Linked DNA regions of Homo sapiens: region 2 is linked to region 1. Evidence: fine-mapped expression QTL. A gene starts in region 1. The other region holds a variant in brackets. All regions are shown on one strand. Distances are between the middles of the regions. Region 1 holds the start of EXD3 (exonuclease 3'-5' domain containing 3). Region 2 overlaps EXD3 (exonuclease 3'-5' domain containing 3).

Region 1 (2,897 bases):
CTGCTTTCCTAAGTTCCCATATTCCTAACATGCATATGCTGTGGGTTAGTCGTATGACTTTCACTGCGTCCCCTCTCTGTAGTGAAACCAGGCACAAGAGCACAAGTGACTGGGTTAGCCCCGGACATAGGATTTGTTGCTGAACCACCTGGTGTCTAAAGATTACATTCCCTTTCTTGGATAACATTTTAAAATGAAATCATTGTGGGCCGGACAAGGTGGCTCACATGTGTAATCCCACCACTATGGGTGGCCGAGGAGGGTGGATCACCTGAGGTCAGGAGTTCAAGACCAGCCTGACCAACATGGTGAAACCCGTTTCTACTAAAAATACTAAATTAGCCAGGCGTGGTAGTGGGCGCCTGTACTCCCAGCAACTAGGGAGGCTGAGGCAGGAGAATTGCTTGAACCCGGGAGGCAGAGGTTGCAGTGAGCCAAGATTGGGCCACGGCACTCCATTCAGCCTGGGTGACAGAACGAGACTCCATCTTTGAAACAAACAAAAAAATGAAATCATTATGGAGGTGATTGTAAATTTGTACGCAGCTTTAAGACACAAGAGAGGGGGGTCTCATGCGCTTTGCCCAGTCTCCTCCAAGGGGGATATTTTGCCAGTCAGGGGCGTGGAGACCCTCCCACAGCGCGCAGTTCCCTCTCCTTTAAATCACTGCTGTCACCGAGCCTTCAGTAACCGTGGGCACCTGCCTGCTTCTGCGGGGTGCTTGGGACTGAGCGGGGGTGGGCAGCGCTGGCGTTTGGGATGCGCAGGAACAGGCGGCCCCGGAACGCGAGGGGGCACGAGAAGGGCACCGGGCTCCGTGCAGGGCCTCGGCCGCTGCACCCTGGCACCCTGGACTCCTGGCTGTTTCGGGGAGTGGGCTGGGGGAGGGCTGAGGGCTCTGAGGAGGAGACTGACCCGGTCTCCCGGCCATGACCACAGGCGCAACGCTTTCCCCTTAGGGCAGGGCGGTCCCTCGGGCCTGACCCAGCCCAGCAGCTTCCCCCTTCCCGGTGTGAGTCACCCTCGGGCCCCGGCCTCTCCCGGTGACCGCCGCGCCCCCCAGCGCGGCCTCGCTTAGCTCAGGTGCGGCCCCCCTGCTCGGCTCCCACCTGCCGGGGCGTTCGCTGGGTCGGGGGCGGCAGGGCGACCCCGTGACGGTCGGGGAGGGGCGCTGGGCCCTCCCCAGGGGCTCGAGGCGGAGGCGTCGCCCGCACCGGCCTCCCCACGCCCCGCTCACCCGCAGCGCGGCCTCGGGGTCCCCGGCCAGCAGGTGCACGCAGCCCGCGTTGAAGCACAGCCTGGCGGGCGGCGCCGGGACGCCCGAGAAGAGGTGCAAGGCGCGGGCCCAGTCCCCACGATCCACAGCCTGCGCGCCCAGGTGCCAGGCGCGCACCAGGTCCCCCAGAGAGGCCATGGCGGCCGGTGGCGGCGCTCGAGGAGGGGCCAGGATCCCGCGGAGGGGCCGGGGCCGGGGCCAGGCGGCGGCGCGGGGCTGCGGGGTCTCCGAGGCGGGCAGAGGTGCGGGCGCCAAGCGCCAGGTGCAACCCCGCTGCCCCGCGGCGCCCCCTGGCGGCAGGCGCCCGCCCCTCCCCGGTAAGGCCACGCCCCCGCCAGAAACGGCTACGCCCACTCCAGACCCTCAGGCCTCGCCCACCTCCCATTCGGCCCCCGCCCCGGCCGGACTTCCGCCGGGAGCTTTGTGCGCCCGGCTTCCTCGCCCCGCCCGCGCTGGCCTTGGTGCGCCGGATAAAGCCCTCCGGGCCAGCGGCTGCGGTCGGGCCAAGGTTCCGCGCCGGGCGTGGACGGTGTGGGGCGGTCCCGGCCCCGCAGGTGAGCGACCCCGGGCCGCGCGGGCCAGGTGGGCGGTCTGGGCGCCGGGGGCAGAGCGGGGCCGGGCCGGGTGCGCGTCCTGAGGTGAGGGCCGTAGCTGGGAGTGAGCCGGGGGCGGGCCGCCGGCTCTCCCGGGGTGGGGAAACTGAGGCCCCGATGGGGCGGGGAAGGTGCGTTCTCCCGCAGGGCCCCGCTCCGGAGGCCGCCGAGCAGCCGGACGCCGCGGGGAGCTGAGCCGACCCCGGCGACCCCGCCGCCCTGTCCCGCAGGGCCTGCCCTCCTCCGCGCCTTCCGAGCACGGACATCACAGGACCCGGAGGCCCTTCGCTCCCTCGCCGAGGAGGAGGCGCTCCCGGTGGGACGCGCGCGCGCCCGCCCTGCCCTCCCCGGGAGAAGGGACGGGCGCCTCCCTGCAGGGGCCCTGGCTTCCTGTCCACCGGCGCTGAGTCCTGTATTAGTTGTCAACCTAAAATAATTAAAAGGGTCAGAATGTGGTGCCCGGTGGGTTTATTCAGGCACAGAGGTCGAGGGCGGCCTGGGTCACCAGGTGCAACGGAGAACAAAACAGAGGCTCAGGTTTTTAAAGAAAACAGAGCCCATCGGAGAGCAGGTGGTTTCGAACGTTGCCCAGGAGCTCACTGGCTTGTAGAAATGGCATTGGTTCGCGATTGACCACGGCTTGGTGTCATCAGTGGATAGTTACTTGGCTCGAGGGGTAGTGAGGGGCTGCGGTTTCATTTGAAATGCTTTCTGGCACTTAACATCAAGCTTTCTGGGCCCACAGTTTAAAAGGGCTTTACATTCCTCAGATAAATGATTTTTTTCTTTCTCATTTGCCCCCCTTTTGATCAAAATCTTTCTTCTTGAAAGCATTGATTATCAAAATCTGAGGGTCAGAGTGTCCCCTCTTGCTGGGAAGGCTCATTCCCACATAGTCCTGTCCCATGCCAAGCAGGGAAGGAGGAGACATTTCAGGGAGTTTTTTTTTTTTTTTTTTTTTTAAGAACACCACAAACTGAATTGGAATGGCATTACAGGGTGGCAAACATGAGGTCTCAGTGAAGTC
Region 2 (2,897 bases), 39 kb after region 1:
TTTGGGAGGCCGAGGTGGACGGACCAATTGAGCTCAGGAGTTCAAGACCAGCCTGGCCAACATGGTGAAAACCCGTCTCTACTAAAAATACAAAAATTAGCCAGGCGTAGCGGTGAGCGCCTGTACTCCCAGCTACTCCGGAGGCTGAGGCACGAGAATCACGAACCTGAGAGGTGGAGGTTGCAGTGAGCCGAGATCACAGCACTGCACTCCAGCCTGGGTGACAGTGAGACTCCGTCTCTAAATAAAATATTAACTTAAATAACAAAATAAAAGTCTCTTTTGTTTATTGTGAAGTGCAACCCATGTGTAGGAAGGAACGCAGAGCACATGATGCGGCTCGGCACATGATCGTGAACACACCACAGCACGCCCCGCCCAGCCCACCCTGGCCCCATCGCCAGCCATGCCCAGCATGCAGCACCCAGAATGCGGGGCCAGTCACACTGCCTGCCATGGCCACGTGGTGGGGTACGTCCTCCCCACCTGGGCATCGTCCCGGGGCTGATGCACTTGCTCCGTCCTCCTACAGTGGACATTTGAGTGTTCTCAGCCTCTGTATGCAGCACACTGTGCACGATGGTGGGACGGTTCTGAGCGCAGACGGGAACACTGGCCTGTGCCACCCAGGCCCAGGTGGCTGCAGAGACGCCATGGTGGAGCCTGGGCGCCCCACGGTGTTTTATGGTTTTTTGGTTTTTGTCTGAGACGGAGTCTCGCTCTGTTGCCCAGGCTGGAGTGCAGTGGCCCGATCTCGGCTCACTGCGACCTCCGCCTCCCGGGTTCATGCTGTTCTCCTGCCTCAGCCTCCCGAGTAGCTGGGACTACAGGCACCCGCCACCATGCCCAGCTAGCTTTTGTAGTTTTAGTAGAGATAGTGTCTCACCACGTTGGCCAGGCTGGTCTCGAACTCCTGACCTCAAATGATCCACCTGCCTCGGCCTCCCAAAGTGCTGAGATGACAGCCGGCTGGGTTTTGTTTTGCATGAGCTGCTTTTGTTACATTTCTCCCAGGGAATCTGACATTGCTGATGCTGTTGTAAGTGATTTTTGAAATGGCCATTTCTGTTTATTGCTGATTTTCTCATTTTGGCTTGTGCTGAGCATTGATGCCGAACCCATTGGTTAATTCTAACGGCGTAGTTTTGATCCTTCGTGGCTTTCTGTGTAATCAATCACATTGTCGGCCGGTCCTGATGTTTCTGTTTTCCTTCTGCATTGGATGCCACCTGCTTGGGACGGCTCCAGGCCGGGCTGTGGC[A/G]TCCTTACGTGCTGCCCTGAGCACCACGTCTCACGCTCGCCCATGGCTTTTACCCAGTTCAGGGCGCTCCCTGCCCGTCCCAGGTGAGTTATTTCTTAAATTGTGAGCTGAACTGAATTTTAGAACACTTGCTCTGTGTCTACCGAAAGGGCCACGTGGTTCTCTCCTCCGTTCCGGTCCTGGGCTGAATCATAACCTTGGACTCTCCTGTTAAGTCAGCCTGGCTCTCTGGGGTGACCCCCGTCACACACGCTTCTCTGGCGTGTGTGGCAGAATCCAGCTGCTGAGGTCTGATCTGATCTCATGTGAGTCCTCAGCCTCCCTCGCAGCAACACGGGGCCTTCCCTGTTCCCGTCCTGCCCTGCAGGGGGGCCCAGCAGCTTCCACAGCCCCCCAGGTCCAGGGGGAGTTCACTGCGGAATCCACCCAGGCTCCTGTCCTCAGGCCTCCCCTGTGGAGTCCCTGCTGGCACCTGCCCCTCCCTGGCCTCCGACCCTGACCCTACCACATGACCAGGCCTGAGTGGGTCTCCACTCCCCTGCACCACCGGCCTCCAAGCCAAGCCACGCAGCCCCTGGGTTCTGTCTGGAAACCTCCCTCGGGTCTCGCTCTGGTGGCCCTGTCCGTGTGGGGCAGCGTCTTTGGTTGGCACTTTTGCTGCAGTGAGGTCGGGGGCCTCCCAGGCGGGGCTGGAGGGAGGGGGCGGCGCGGGAGGGCCGGGGACCGAAACCTAAAGAGGGCAGGGGCTTGGGGTCCTCGTGGTGCCAGGACTGCGGTGCAGGGTTTGGGTGAGAAGATGCTGATGAGGTTGCCGAGGGCGCCAGGCGGAGCAGGTAGAGGCTCAGGCCCACGAGGGCTGCTCTGCACCTGCAGCTGAAAGATGAGGCCCAGCTCCCAGGGCTGAGCGTGGTTGAAGTGCTGCTGGGCGGACTCAGCTGGATGGGCGGCCACGGGCCACAGGGAAGGAACAGGGTGGGTGCTGCCGCAGCTGGCAGGTGTGTTGTGTGTGTGCCAGACAGAGGTGGGGGAGGGTTCCCGGCCCCCCGGGTCCAGAGGAGCCCCAGGCATTGCGGGTCAGTGGGAGGGACTTCCCGGCGGGCTGTGCGATAGCCCCTGCACCTGCCTCTCCCTCCCACGGCTGTTATCTTATCTCCACAGGCCGGGACCCCCTCCTGCTCCTGCAGGCCCTGCAGACCCTGTGGTCCACGCGGGAGCGGAAGCAGGTGAGTGGACGTGGCAGCCACCACGTGCCAAGTCACAGCCAGCAGAACTGACTGTTGGGCAGAGACTGGCCTAACAGGAGGCCTCCCTGGTCAGGAAGCTGCACAGCCCCCCACGGCCACAGGGTCCTGCACAGCTGCTGCCCCAGACCGCCTCCAGGGTGGCCTGTGTGGGGCAGGGGGCGGTCCTCCTCAAGTCCCCAGGGTGGTAAAGGCACTGCCTGGCCCCAGCAGCCCCTCTGAGGTCACCTCTGGGAGGCGCAGGGGCCACTCACCTGCAGGGACACAGCTGTCGCCAGCACTGCCAGGCCTGAGGCCCCGTCCTGCCACCGCCAGAGCACCCAGGCCCGGGTGGCCACTGGGGCAGGTGTCCAGGACAGGGAGGCCTTAGGAAGGGGTGGGACTTGAGCAGGGCA

Evidence for each region. PIP is the estimated chance that this variant, and not a neighbour inherited with it, causes the effect.
Region 2: its variant is fine-mapped to the expression of EXD3 in whole blood (TOPMed, PIP above 0.99). The same link has a PIP of 0.9 or more in T cells and blood mononuclear cells.

Annotation. Positions count from the first base shown.
Region 1 is chr9:137,422,048-137,424,944 of GRCh38, reverse strand. EXD3 (exonuclease 3'-5' domain containing 3) reads left to right here and starts at 1,783. Exons shown (of 22, transcript NM_017820.5): 1 at 1,783-1,831. NOXA1 (NADPH oxidase activator 1) reads right to left here and starts at 1,552. Exons shown (of 14, transcript NM_001256067.2): 1 at 1,239-1,552. The coding sequence starts at 1,415. RefSeq lists silencers at 1,322-1,881, 1,902-2,041, 2,052-2,191.
Region 2 is chr9:137,382,900-137,385,796 of GRCh38, reverse strand. EXD3 (exonuclease 3'-5' domain containing 3) reads left to right here. Exons shown (of 22, transcript NM_017820.5): 3 at 2,420-2,484. Among named protein-coding and RNA genes, the nearest start is that of EXD3, 39 kb to the left of the region's middle. The variant A/G (reference allele first, on the strand shown) is at 1,262.